Linked DNA regions of Homo sapiens. Each later gene encodes a partner of the first gene's protein in a complex. Each region holds a gene or a part of one and is shown on either strand. Other genes may lie near its edges.

Evidence for each region. The genes of interacting proteins can lie anywhere in the genome.
Region 2: the proteins of NUS1 (region 1) and DHDDS are in contact, whole or in part, in a crystal structure (PDB 7PAX), measured with the Homo sapiens proteins. Residues at the interface, in NP_612468.1 of Homo sapiens: His137, Gln138, Pro193, Glu194, Lys197, Ala198, Ile200, Val201, Ala204, Gln205, Phe207, Cys208, Gln209, Val211, Ala212, Arg217, Pro218, Thr219, Leu221, Asp222, Val223, Leu226, Asp237, Pro246, Val247, Asp248, Ser249, Thr250, Leu251, Gly252; in NP_995583.1 of Homo sapiens: Arg37, Arg38, Glu81, Asn82, Lys84, Arg85, Arg159, His160, Ile162, Ser163, Val166, Arg167, Met169, Ala170, Trp171, Val173, Glu174, Pro180, Ser181, Ile183, Ser184, Glu185, Leu188, His199, Glu209, Val210, Arg211, Leu212, Ser213, Asp214.

The regions. Positions count from the first base shown.
Region 1 is NC_000006.12:117,678,393-117,685,665, reverse strand, and holds part of NUS1 (dehydrodolichyl diphosphate synthase complex subunit NUS1), read right to left. Parts: intron 1-7,273. UniProt on the Homo sapiens protein: With DHDDS, forms the dehydrodolichyl diphosphate synthase (DDS) complex, an essential component of the dolichol monophosphate (Dol-P) biosynthetic machinery.
Region 2 is NC_000001.11:26,427,991-26,435,557, reverse strand, and holds the start of DHDDS (dehydrodolichyl diphosphate synthase complex subunit DHDDS), read right to left. Parts: upstream 3,238-7,567; 5' UTR 3,182-3,237; exon of another isoform or gene 3,040-3,181; intron 2,668-3,039; 5' UTR 2,613-2,667; coding exon 2,550-2,612; intron 1-2,549. UniProt on the Homo sapiens protein: With NUS1, forms the dehydrodolichyl diphosphate synthase (DDS) complex, an essential component of the dolichol monophosphate (Dol-P) biosynthetic machinery.

The sequences.
Region 1 (7,273 bases):
AAAAAGTTAAATGGGCTGGGCATGGTGGCTCATGCCTATAATCCCAAACACTTTGGGAGGCTGAGATGGGAGGATCACTTGAGGTCAGGAATTTGACACCAGCCTGAGCAATGTAGCAAGACCCTGTCTTTATAAAAGAATTAGCCAGGCATGGTGGCTTGTGCCTGTAGTACAACCTACTCAGGAGGCTGCCCAGGAGTTCAAGGCTGCAGTTAACTATGATCGCACCACTGCACTCCAGCCTGGGCAACAAAGTAAGACCCTGTCTCTAAAAAAAAAAAGAAAGAAAGAAAAGATATATCAAATAGCCATTATGACAAAACACACACGAGAAAATCTTCAATTTCCAAAGTAAGGAAACTGCACACATATCCTTTGAATCTACAATAAAAGTTGAAAAAAATAAAAGTAAAACCACAAAATCTTCAACTTCCGTGAAAGAAGAATATTATTCTAGCAAAGTTATACCTCAGAAAGACTACCATGCTTTTGTTATTTCTTAATAAACAGCAGGTATGCATTTTGGGGGCCAAATGAAGACTTCATTTTAGATTCTAAGAAACATTTGTTTTAAATTCTAGTCTTAAAAAATAAGATGTTCAATGTTTAGATAATAAGGGAATGTTCCCTAACCTTCCCCATAACTACTGGAATGTCCCTAACCTTACCATTGTAACACAACTATTTCGACTTCTCAATATTTTCTAGTCTTTGTCCACATGCATATGTAATCCTAGTGTATATGATTATGCAATTTGTATCCTGCTTTTTTTACTTGTGTAATATGTATCCTTCCTTGGTGCTAGTCTCATGATTATTTTAACAACTGTATTAAACAAAAAGTTTTTTGCTGTTTTTTTCAGTTCTTAAAATATAAAAATCAATACTTCCCCAGGTGATTGCTATTATAGGAATCACTCTATTGCATATTCTCTCAGCAGTCAGGTTTCTCATCACATTCGAGGAAAGTAGAGTATCATATGGACACCAGAAATGTCAGCAGTGGCCGTAACATGAAGGGGCCTGTGGGCCTTGGTAATGAATTTCGAAAGCATTCCAACTACAACGAGAAGCTGTTGGAGGGTTTTATTCAGTCCAAATGATGCCATCAAAAAAAGATCACCTCGCTGGTAGGTGAAGAATGGATTATACAGGGACCAGGATAGAAAAATGGAGATCAATTAGGAGGCTACTACAGTAATCCAGGTGAAAGAACAATGGTAATTTAAACTTGGATGGCTGCAATGGAGACTAAAACAAGGATTAGGTCTCAAAAAGTACTGTTTTAGACATACAAGGCATAGGATTGACCTAATAAATTATTTTAGACAAGGAGTTAGATATAGAAGTCTGGAATTATGGGAGATATCAGGACTGTATTTCCAGCCCAAACCTGTGTGTCAGCACACACGTGACATTTAAATCCATGGGATTGGGGAGATTATCTGCAGGACAGGGGTCAGCAAACTACTGCTATGGAAAACAGCCACATTTGCTTATGGCCATTTTTGACTACACTAGCAGAGTTGAGTAGTTGCAACAAAGTGAGTAACAGAAAGACAAAGGCATACATACAGCTCCAAACTCTAGGACACCACAACATTTGGAAGTACAACAGAGGAGAAGCCACACATATGGATTAGAAGAAAACAGAGTAGAGTAGAAGTTAATTTGCCTAATCTACCTACTAGGTTACATACTGTATTCAGTCTTACACATTAACTGAATAATAAAGTCATGACATGCATACTTTTTTTAAATTAAGGGAACCAAGTCACAAGGAGTTTAATTAGACAAGTATTCCATCAGCAAATCTTATCTGCATTCCTCAAATACTGATTATTTTAAAAGGTATGTGAAATGTATAATCAAGTCTATAAAATGAGACTTTTAAAATACATTTACTATCTCTTTTAAATCTGAAACTGGAATTTTTACTGTGATTATTTATTCCCTTCTACAGAAACAGACTTTTTAAGAAATAATAGCAAGTACTTACAAGAACAAACAAGAGAAAAAAATGAGATAAGCATTGAAACAATCTCTCCTCATTATTAAGCACTTCACTGGTTATGGAATTAAAGTAATCTCTATTTATAAATAAATGCCTGTTCTAAAAATTGGCCTACCTCTTTTTCTTTTTAAACTAGTCACCTAAGTTACCTCTAACAACTCAATTATAAAACGACTAGAGAGCAATCTTCAGAGAAGAAAACATATATTTATGGAGCAATTATTTAAAATGAAAAAAATCTACCATTAAAATTTTACATGACTGAAGTAGTCATAAGAAAATAAATCATAACAAAATACATAGGCCATTAAGCTATTTTATTTCAGGAGAGAGCCCTTCAGGACACCTCACAGAACAACAATTATACTGTAGAAAATTATACTGCAGTGCTGTAGTAAGAGAACAGGTATGTGTAATGGTGACAAAGTATATAACAAAATGAGGGCTAGATTTAAGTCCTAGCTTGTCAGCACAAGAGATATGTAAAATGAACAATCCATGTGGGTTTTTTCGGCATCTTGTTGGACATTTTTAAAATGAGAATATATTTACAGAATCTGCTCACCTGACAAACTAACAGCTCAACACAAAGCTGGAGCACCATAACATTAAATTTTTAGCTGGTTTTTTAAAAAATGTGTCCTATAACTCAAAGGATGAACATGTACACTAGTGGGATGAAGAAATCTCTATTAGTCTTTAAATATCTTTTACAAATAATTTCTATAACCTGTAGATAAGTGCCTGTTTACCAAAGCTTGAAGATGACCCAAAAGAATCAGAAACAGTACTAAAAGTGACTACTGTCGTCACATTCTTTTACCAGTGGAAATCAAAATAATGTAACGGTTAAGCACAAAAGCTCTAGAATAAAAATCTGGTTCAAATTCTAGATCTGCTCCTTACTAGATTTGGAACCTGGCTTTTTAAATCTCAGTTTATCTGTAAAACTGCTAATGACTTAAGGCACTTTTCTATAGTATCCAGTACAGACTAAAAGTTCAACAAAGGATAATTATTACGCTTAAGATACAGGTTTGATTTATTGATTGATTGATTGAGGCAGGGTCTCACCCCGGCTAGAGTACAGTGGTGCAACCATGGTTCACTGTAGCCCCAACCTCCAGGACTCAAGTAATCCTCCCACCTCAGCCTCCTGAGTAGTTGGGACTACAGGCACACACCATGTCTAGCTCATTTTCTATTTTTATTTTTCAGAGATGCGGGTCTCACTATATTCCCCAGGCTGGTCTTAAACTCCTGGGCTCAAGCAATCCTCCCATGTCAGCCTCCTAAACTGCTGGGATTACAGGCATGAGCCACCACACTCAGCAAAGGTTTACTTTAATACACAGATCCAGTACTATAGTTAAACAAAAGGGTACATAGAGAATAAAGTCATTTAAAAAGTTAACAAAAGCAGGATAGAATTTTTCAAAGACAGAGTAAGACTGGGGATGGAACAGTCGAGAGAGGCTACTTCAGAGATGATAGTTAGGATGAACTTACAAGAATCAACAAGCTGGGCACGGTGGCTCACACCTGTAATCCCAGCACTTTGGGAGGCTGAGGCAGGTGGATCTTGAGGCCAGGAGTTCAAGACCAGCCTGGCCAACATGGTGAAACCCCATCTCTACTAAAAATACAAAAAATTAGGTGGGCATGGTGGCATATGCCTGTAATCCCAGTTACTCAGGAGGCTGAGGCAGGAGAATAGCTTGAACCCCGGAGGCAGAGGTCGCAGTGAGCCGAGATCGCACCACTGCACTCCAGCCTGGGCGACAGAGCCAGACTCCATGTCAAAAAAGAAAAGAATCAACAGTCTTTTGACAGGTAGCTAGCCCTTTGCCAGAAAAAGGTGAAGAGGACATTTCAGGATGTTAAGATAAATGTGAAACTGTACAAAAAGTCAACTACACAAAGGTAGAGATTAAGAATAGAATGCTCCCTTACATGAGTTTCCACATGAGGGAAGATAAACACTAGGTTGTACTATTCAGTATGTCAAATGTAATCACATTTATATTTAGACTTTCAACATTTCCGGCACCTCTGTATTTCAACATAAGGAGAATAAACTTAAGAAAATCATACTTCTCAATAGCATCTGTGTCACTGTGCCAACTAAGTAAACTAGGGTAAACTATGTTCATTTTCCTCCATTACTTTAAGGCTTCTGGGTATTGTGTTGGGAAGCAGAGAGTGCAACTCAGTTCATTATTCTTATCTACAGGAAATGCGGCCCTTCTTTGAATTCAAGGAACACATATTAACTATTCATTACATGCATAACACCAAGATACACTCTGTAAGAAAAGCAAAAATGAGAAGGATGGATAGCATCTGTGGAGCTTATAATCTAGTAAGAAAGTTTATGCACATATACATACAAATATGACTACACAAAGCAGAGAACAGAAGTACCTTTAGAGATGTTTGAAGTTCTGAGGAGATTCAGAGATATAGTAAGATAGGGAACGGAGTGAATAGTCAAGAAAGGCAAAAATATACAAGGTGATATTTAGGATTGACTCGGAAAAGATGAACAATAGCCTCTTGGTAGGCATACAGCCATTTGCCAGAAAAAGGAGAAGAGGGAGTTCCAGGAAACTGGAACATTAAATACCTAAATACAGACATAGCAAAAGGTATGCAAAGCATTGAGAAACAGGTTGAAAAGATAGGATACACTGGGCAGACTTTTAAAATGTTACTGTGAGAAACCTGTACCCAAAAACCATTTCAAAAGCAACCTAGCTTCGATTTAAATAAACTAAGGAAATAGCACTAGAAAGAGCAGCACACAAAAAAAATTTGTTGTCTTACTGTTGAATTCTCACACAGAAGGCAATGCCTTATTCTGGATCATTCCAATTTACAGCAAATAATCCTAAGGCTTACCCCAAATTATCCTCAATCATGAAAAGGAACATGAAATATAAATAATCTAATGTAAGGCAAGTAGCAGAGTATCCTTTGATCTGTGTTAGGGTTAAACTTCAGTGTGCAGAAGTATCATACAGGTAGCTTGATAAAAACAGAGACGCCCAGGTCCCAGTTCCCTCATTAAGTTTGATTACTAAGTGTGTTGAATCTGCATTTTTTATAAGCATCCCCAATGACTAATTCACAGATGGTCCACAGACAGGTTTTGAAAAATACCAATCAACAGCAAGGTTCCCAGCAAGGCACAATAAAGCCAGGAAATAAGAACAAGTTCCATCACTTAAGATAACAATACATATCCAGATAACTTGGAGCCAAGTGTACCTGCATGTGAGACACAGGCAAACAACACTGCTAAGGCTAGAACAATAAAATCCATTTACCCCAACCCCTGGTTCTTGTACCATCCCAGTTATGGTCATTTCTTAAATTATAATCATATAGACAGAACAGCCAAATCTCGCTAGAATTCTGAACTCAAAAAATTCCTGATCACTGTCCTGAGAGAACAACCTGAATTTTTGAAAGATGAAAGAATTACTTGCAGACTCTATTATAATCAAGAAATATTGCAGGTAGTGAAAAACAAAAAGATCAGTTTGCTGGCAGTCAAATTAAGGTCAATATAATAGATCTTTTAGTCTAAGGATTAAATGTTGTTATCTAGATCCAACCATAATTAGAACGAATTTAAGTACAAATTTGAGAGCAAAGGGGTGTAGGACAGAATAAAATGTAAGGTGGTAAGCTTGTCTTCAAAGTGGCTGCCCGTCCATCTCCCTTCAAATCCTCACCCAACCTTTCTACACAAGCCATTTTCTCATTGAGAGGTGAAGTCCATTTCTCCACTTTCTTGATGCAGAACAGATGTGAGACTTCTCTGACCAAGAGAACATAGCAAAAATAACACTGCATGATTTCCTAGGTTAGGTCCTAAGACATCTTTCAGCTTCAGCCTTTGGCCAAGTCTCTGGAAACATTTGTTCTGGGGGAAGTTAGTTAACTGGTTACCCTGAAGTCAACCTCCAGACCATGTGAAGCCAGATGACCAACCTGCCCCATCTATTTCAGCCATCAAAAACCAGGCACCAGACATAAGGAGAAACCTTTGGGTCCCAGACTCTATCTGAATGAAAGCTATGAGTGACCCAAAGGAAAAACTGCCCAACTGAACTAAGTCAATATATAAATTGTTGTTTTAAAACACTATGCTTTGGGTAGATTTCTACAAAGCAGTAGGTAACCAGAATAGCTGTCCAAGCCTTCATCCTACCTCATTTCCCAACTGTTCATTACATAAATTCACTGCTCCCAACACTCTACTCAATGCTATTACTGAACCTAGTCTAATGAGAATGCTGCCATTAGGGAAATCCCCATTCACACACACAGAGAACACTGTTCACGCCAATCCCAATTCTATCTTTTTGACTAGGTCCAGCTCAGGTGTTGCTCCCTTCCTTACCAGACAAATATGGAGGTAACCCGGGAAATTTTCCATTTTTCGCTCCTTAAAGTATCTGCCATTCACTTAGCATTTCTATATTAGCTTGTGTTAATTTTTAATGGACATCCTTACTTGAGTGGAAACTCTTTAAGAGACACCATTTCTTGTACTTCTTGTATCCCAGTGGCATTTACGAGTATGTCAATAGGATTTTTCATAGTTAAATATCTATCTAGAAATAAGCTTAAATAGACATTTATTTAGAAACACTGAATATGGCCGGGCGCAGTGGCTCACACCTGTAATCCCAGCACTTTGGGAGGCTGAGGCAGGCAGATCACCTGAGGTCAGGAGTTTGAGACCAGCCTGGCCAATATGGCAAAACCCTGTCTCTACTGAAAATACAAAAATTAGCAGGGCGGGGTGGCGCGCATCACCTGTAGTCCCAGCTACTTGGGGAGGCTGAGACAGGAGAACTTGAATCTGGGAGACGGAGGTTGCAGTGAGCCTAGATTACACCACTGCACTCCAGCCTGGGTGACAGAGCGAGACTCCGTCTCAAAAAAAAAAAAAAAAAAAAACCACTGAAAAAGAAACACTAAATAAAGCTTACATGTCTATACTCCCTCTGAGTGATTCTTACATATCCACATGGCCTATATTTTCAAGTCTATATTCAAAGAGCCTCTCCTTGGCCTCCCTATTTAAAACTGTACCCCTTCCTACACCACTGACTTTCAACATTCCTATCTTCCCTTCTCTGCTTTACTTTTCCTCATTGCACTTACATTACCACATATTTACCCACGTATATTATTTGTCAGACTCCCACTGAAATCTAAGTTCCATGAGTACACTGCTGCATT
Region 2 (7,567 bases), on another chromosome or scaffold:
GCTGAAGCAGGAGAATGGCTTGAACCCGGGAGGCAGAGGTTGCAGTGAGCCGAGATAGCACCACTGCACTCCAGCCTGGGTGACAGAGTAAGACTCTGTCTCAAAAAAAAAAAAAAAAAAAAAAAAAGGCACTAATTCCTGACCTCTAGCCAACTGCTGACACACAGGAACTGGGGCACAACATTGCTGGATCTGGTGATCTTGCAAGAAAACCAAACATCAGGATTTTTATTAAAATTTTGCTTTTCAGCCGGGCGCAGTGGCTCATGCCTGTAATCCCAGCACTTTGGGAGGCCGAGGCGGGTGGATCACGAGGTCAGGAGTTTAAGACCAGCCTGGCCAAAATGGTGAAACCCTGTCTCTACTAAAAATAAAGAAAAATTAGCCGGGCGTGGTGGCGAGCGCCTGTAATCCCAGCTACTCGGGAGGCTGAGGCAGGAGAATTGTTTGAACCGGGGAGGCAGAGGGTACAGTGAGCTGAGATTGTGCCACTGCACTCCAGCCTGGGCGACAGAGTGAGACTCTGTCTGAAAAAAAAAAATTGTTTTTCAAAGCAAACAAAAAAGACTTTTTTTGAGCCAAACAAAACTTACTTGGGGCCGGACGTGGTGGCTCAAGCCTGTAATCCCAGTACTTTAGGAGGCTGAGGTGGGCAGATCACTTGAGGCCAGGAGTTCGAGACCAGCCTGGCCAACATGGTGAAACCCCAACTCTACTAAAAAAAAAAAAAAAAAAAATTAGCCAGGCATGGTGGCCGGTGCCTATAATCCCAGCTACTTGGGGAGGCTGAGGTGGGAGAATCGCTTGAACCCAGGAGACAGAGGTTGCAGTAAGCCAAGACTGCACCACTGCACTCTAGCCTGGGCAACAGAGTAAGACTGCATCTCAAAAAAGAAACCACAAAAAACAAAACCCTTATTTGGCTTGGAGCAGCTTTGAGTTGTCTCCCATAACACAAATGGACTCCTTAGCCTATTTTTCCTCACCTGGGAGGGCTCTTCCCTGACTGCTTCCTCATCAACACTTCTCCTTTTTCTACTTCTGTCTCACATACAGCCTTTCCAGCCCCCAAAATCCATTCAAGTTATGCAGCTTGTTCTTCCAAACATACCACTGCAGTGGTTCCCCAAGGAGATACTTCCCATTTCCTGGACTGCTTGAGATCACTTGGCATTTGTTTGTGAGCATGTGTGGGGCTTGTATAAAGGTTACTGACTCATAAATTCATTACTACCTGCTGCTTGACAGCCTGTGGTTGAAAAACAAAACCAAGCTGACTGGCCCCAATCTCAAACCTGTCTTAGGCAGATATAATATTGCTGTGATTCCTAGAGAAAAAGCTGAGGGAAGATTTGGGGAAGATAGGAGATAATAGTCTTCAAATGTCTGAAAGACAATCCTAATAATAATTAAGAACTGCTAGACATTATGCTAACTGCTTTATATTAATGTCTCATAAATTCTCATGATAATTCTACAGTTGTTAAAGTCACATGATTACTAAATGATAGAACTGGACTTTCAGGCCAGGTGCAGTGGCTCAGTCCTATAATCCCAGCACTTTGGGAGGCTGAGATAGGTGGATCACCTGAGGTCAGGAGTTCGAGACCAGCCTGGCCAATATGAGAATCCCATCTCTACTAAAAATATAAAAATTAGCCATGTGTGGTAGCATATGCCTGTAACCCCAGCTACTTGGGAGGCTAAGGCAAGAGAATTGCTTGAACTTGGCAGATGAAGGTTGCAGTAAGCCAAGATTGCGCCATTGCACTCCAGCCTGGGCGACAGAGCGAGACTCCATCTCAAAATAAAAAAAAGAACAGGAATTTCACCCATGTTTGTCTGCGTCTAGAGCCCAAACTCTTTTTTTTTTTTTTTTTTTGAGACAGAGTCTTGTTCTGAACTCTTTTTTTTGAGACAGTCCCGTTCTGTCACCCAGGCTGGAGTGTGGTGGCACAATCATGACTCACTGCAGCTTTGACCTGGGCTCAAGAAATTCTCCCACTTCAGCCTTCCGAGTAGCTGGGACTACAGGTGCACACCACCAAGCCCTGCTATTTTTTTAATTTTTTGGAGAATCGGGGTTTTGCCATGTTGCCCAGGCTGGTCTCAACTCCTGAGCTCAAACAATCTGCCCACCTCAGCCTCCCAAATTGCTGGGATTACAGGCGTGAGTGACCGGGCCCAGCTCTACTGACAGATCAAAGAATATATCAAAGATTAACCTATTTAAATCAAGAAGACAGTACATGGAACAATGGATCAATGTTCCAGGGAAACAAATTTCAGTTCTCTATAAAGAATACTTAGCAGTCTAGGCTGCCCAGTGACATTAAGAGGCCTGGGCTTCCAGAAAATATCAGAGTTAGGACAAAAGTCTACCAGAAATGTAGACCTGGAAGTTACCATTCTAAGACTCTTTGGTTTCCTTGCTAAATTCCACTTAACATCATGAATTGCACTTAACATCATCAACTTTAATAACAGGTTTTTATATAAGATTATCCAACTGACCAGAAGGCCAACCGGTGCTCTGGGCCATTGCTCACCTTTATGATGTTGGCACAGAACCGCTCCCAAAGTGACAGCTCTCCTTCCTTGATCCATGACATAGTTCTTTTCCAGTCAGAAGATCACTCCAGAACAAGCAAACACCAGCCAGGTAATCTTGGATAAACAAGAAAGAAAATAAGAAGTCACCAAGGTTTGCGAAGAGCTATAACTGACTTCTGGGGAATCAGATGGACTATGGAGAGCAGCCAGCATTAGAATCCAAAGACACTGGTCTAAGCCTATAATCTTTTACCACCCAGAGTTTTATAACGCAATGTGACCTCTGGAGGCAAAAGCCTTTCCTCGGTTCTCCTGGCTTTGCAGACTTCTTCCCATTCCCATTTCCTCCGTATCTGCACTGACTTCTTCTGAACATCTAAGTCGGTTTCCTGCCACATCATGGTGCCCACATCTTGATCATTCCCCGTTTCTTCCTTCTCCATCTTCCCCTAAGCTGTTTCCAACTCTGTGCTCCCAGTTACTAACTCCTTCAGTTATCGCACGCCTAGTACTTCACGCCTCAGTGGTCTCCTGATTATTCCCTCAGTCGTCCCTTTGCTTCTCCCGCAGCTGCTCCCCGCCCAGTCACCCTCTTCTCCTCTAGTTCACCCCTTCAGTTCAGTGGCACCTGATTAGCTCCGCTGGGCGCGTCCCCACGGCTTCAGTGGGCCGGCACTTCCTCATGACGTGGCGCTGGCAGAACACGTCATCTTTGGGCGCTGCGACACGCCCCTTCCGTCACCCAAACTGAGGGGACCCTGCCCTGCGCCTGCGCCTGCGAGCTAGTGGGAGGGCGGTTCTCAGTCCCGCGGGGTGTGGAAGCCGGCGCGGGTGAGAGCCAGGCTCACGTGACCGAGCGGGGCGGGAGGCTGGGCTCCAGGCCACGTGCTGGGAGACCAGCTGGGGAAGACAGGGTTGAGCCCAGCGTTGGGAGCGGAGGCGTCTGGAAAACGCGCCAGGGAAATGAGCCAGGGGCAAGAATCGAGGCGCTTCTCGGCCGTCGAAGGCAGCTTAGGACTGCTGAGAGACTGGGTAAGGCAGCGTCCTTACCTTGGAATGCCGCAGAACCGGGCTTCATTAGAGCACTGGTGCATACTCTTAAAAATTATCTCGTTACCGTTTCGTATTTTATTTAGTGGATTTAATCGTCTGGGAAGGAGTTTCTAGCCGCAGCCAATCTTACAGACGCGCAGAATATTAATCTATTTTGTGCCGACTTAAGGCACGCATATTTTAGGATTTGTGGATTCCCAAGACCTATCCCAACGAACTCAAGAGAAGGGGTAAGGCCAGAAAGATTTCTGCCATAAGAATGACTTCTAGGCCAGGCGCGGTGGCTCACGCCTGTAATCCCAGCACTTTGGGAGGCCGAGGCGAACGGATCACCTGAGGTCAGGAGTTTGAGACCAGCCTGACCAACATCGTGAAACCCCGTCTGTACTAAAAATACAGAAAATGAGCCGGGCGTGGTGGCGGGCGCCTGTTATCCCAGTTACTCGGGAGGGTGAGGCAAGAGAATCGCTTGAACCCGGGAGGCGGAGGTTGCGGTGAGCCAAGATCAGGCCACTGCACTCCAGCCTGGGCAACAGGAGCGAAACTCTGTCTGAAAAAAGAAAAAAAAAAAAAGCATGACTTCTAAAATAACAGAAAGGTGCTCGCTTTGGCAGTACATAAATGAAAATAACAGAAATTAACCCTGGTAGAAAAGTTAAGGGCATTAGCTCTACTGAACCTTTACGAAAAAAAGGGTTGCAAGAATTCTAGGCTCACAAAACAAATTTGTAGTTCAATTTTCTCAAAATTGAAAGAGGAGGAAAAAATTCTTTACAGATTCTTATACAACCAGTATTATTTTTATTTATTTATTTATTTATTTATTTATTTAGAGACGGAGTCTGGCTATGTCGCCCAGGCTGGAGTGCAGTGGCGCGATCTCGGCTCACTGCAGCCTCCGCCTCCCGGGTTCAAGCGTTTCTCCTGCTTCATCCTCCTGAGTAGCTGGGACTACAGGCGCGTGCCACCAAGCCTGGCTAATTTTTGTATTTTTAGTAGAGACAGGGTTTCACCATTTTGGCCAGGATGGTTTTGATCTCTTGACCTCGTTATCTGCCTGCCTAGACCTTCCAAAGTGCTGGAATTACAGGCGTGAGCCACCGCGCCCGGCCACAACCAGTATTTCTTGCAAAGCATAATACAACTTTATGTAGTATTATGTTTTGAGTGGAATAAAAATTCACAATTGTCAAAGAACCTTTTTGTCGCATTTCATTTTACAATATTATTAAAGAAATGAGGCAAGGAAGAGATGTTTTATTGGCACTTTCTAATTGATTATGTCTTCCACTCTTTCTAATGAAAGGGGTTATTTTAACACAGCAACATGATGAAAGAAAGCCCTAGAGATGAGTAGAAATGAATAGTGTTGAGCTTTTCCATCCTTCCTGCTTTGCAGCCTGGGGAGTAAATTTCAGTCCAAGTTACTTCATTTTGCAGCAAGACAATTTAATGAAGTCCACTAGTAGTTTGCTGCTTCATGAGGTTCTACTGTCAGCTTTGACTTTTGGTACAATTAAGGAGCCACAAAGTCCCTGGAGTAGATTATGAAACTTCTTACCCTTACTCTTATAATGTCAGGCTTGAGGATTTAAACCAGTTTCCCTGTTTCCTTGCACGGTGTTAATATACTTGGTTTGCCTCCAATCAAGTTTTTTTTTTTTCCTTTTTAAAATCCTCCTTCCCTTAGTGGGAATAGATGTTTAAAATTCAGTGTTCTTGCTTGATGACTTGTGATGTATATAAAAAAACTCGATGTTCATTAAAAAGCTAGCAAACTTTGGCTCAAAGAAAATGTTGCATTTATAGCTAGTCAGTGAATCTCCTCTGGCCTCAATTTCCCCAGTTCCACAACACATTTCTCTCCTTGGGGTGCTGCAAGCGGTTAATTAATTAAGATTTGTAAAAGGCTTTGAGGAGTAGGGGACAAAGTATTATTAGGGTCTCATGCCCCAAGCCATGGCCCCATCCTTTCATCCCAGCCAGTGGCACAGGCAACCCCATTCTTATGCATGCCAAGCCCCTAATCCCCTCTTGAATGTGGAAGCTTCCAAGGAAAGGACAAGAGGCCTTAACTAGAAACAAAAATCCACTGTAATGAGGTGCTAAGAGGACTGAACTTTCAAGATTCATTCCTAACAAACTGGCTGAACAGAAAAACTTCTGAGTCCCAATCCAAGAAAGTGGGAGTTATCGGAAGGGCAAAAACATCTGACAAGGGGATGACAGTTTGCGTACCAATAAGTCTTTATTTATTCATTGTATTTTCCCAGGGAAAGGAGAAGGGAAGGGAAGAGTCAGCTTGTGTTAAAAAATGATTAGAAAATGGGAAAGGAAGTACCCAGTACAGCAAAATCAACCATCAAATAAACACACCCCAGTGATGGGGTCACCAAAGCCCAAAGGGGCTCAGTCTCCTGCAGTTCAGGAATGAGGGAAAAGGATCAGGAAAAAAACAGACAGGTACAGGCTTTCCTACCCTCCCGCCCCATAAATTCAAGATTTTACACAAAGCTTTGGTTTTTAGCAGTAAACATGGAGTTACATTCGTTCGTCTCCTATTAAACAATCTTGTGGCCACTTTGACATAAAGTTTCTAGCACCTGCATAAAAGTTCCTGAGTGACTTGGATATACATTCATATTCCCTTTCTTGGCCTCCTGACCCCACTTTCTACATGGAAGGCCCCCAATTGCATCTCTTTACTTTAGGATTAGAAATTAAAATTAAGGAGGTTTGATCCATCCAAAATACAGTAGTGTGTTTTTGTTTTGTTTTGTTTTGTTTGAGACAGAGTCTTGCTCTGTAACCAGGCTGGAGTGCAGTGGTGCGATCTCAGCTCACTGCAACCTCTGCCTCTCGGGTTCAAGCGATTCCCCTGCCTCAGCCTCCTGAATAGCTAGGACTAAAGGCATGCACCACCACACCCGGCTAATTTTTTTGTATTTTAGTAGAGACGGGGTTTCACTGTGTTGGCCAGGATAGTTTTGAACTCGTGACCTTGTGATCCGCCCGCCTCAGCCTTCCAAAGTGCTGGGATTACAGGTGTGAGCCACCGCGCCTGGGCTACAGCAGTGTCTTAAGTGTTTGGCATGAATACACCAAGAAATGGTTGGCCCAGCATGGTGGCTCATGCCTGTAATCCCAGCACTTTGGGAAGCCAAGGTGGGCAGATCACCTGAGGTCAGGAGTTCCAGACCAGCCTGGACAACATGGTGAAACCCCGTCTCTACTAAAAATACAAAAATTAGCTGAGTGTGGCGGGTGCCTGAAATCCCAGCTACTCAGGAGGCTGAGGCAGGAGAATCACTTGAACCCAAGAGGCAGAGGCTGCAGTGAGCCGATCATGCCACTGCACTCCAGCCTGGGTGACACAGTGAGACTCCATTTTAAAAAAAAAAAAAAAAGAAAGAAAGAAATGGTAATGGTCTTGACTTAGGAGGTTGGGAACAAGGGATGGAGGGTTTTCCTAGCTTCAGTATTTTTGCATACATCATTTAAGAGTTGTGGAGACACTCCAAGCATGAAATGTGTATGTGTGTGGGTGTGTAAGTTTTCTTTTGGGGGTGAACAGAAAAGAGGGCAGGGTAGAAGACAAGTTTTTAGGACAGAAGATCTGGTCTAATAGGTAATAGGGGAAGGGGAATACAAAAGAAAGGATGGTTCAAGATCCCCACTTTAAGAAGAGGGCCCCCCAAACTAATGTTTCAGATCTTTTTGCCTGGTGCAGAACCTTCTGTCAAAGATGCTTTGGCTATTTTTCTCTCAATACAAAAAGAAGTTTGTAAACAAAACCCCCAAAGAACACGGAGAAAGACCAATACATTATATTTACACAAACTAGGCCACCTAGCAATCAACGTAGTGAAGTCCTACAAAGCCCAGACAAATACAGTAACTTGGGGGGCAGCATTTAGGGGAGACAAGAACCCAGGATCAGACACACACCACCCAATGCGTT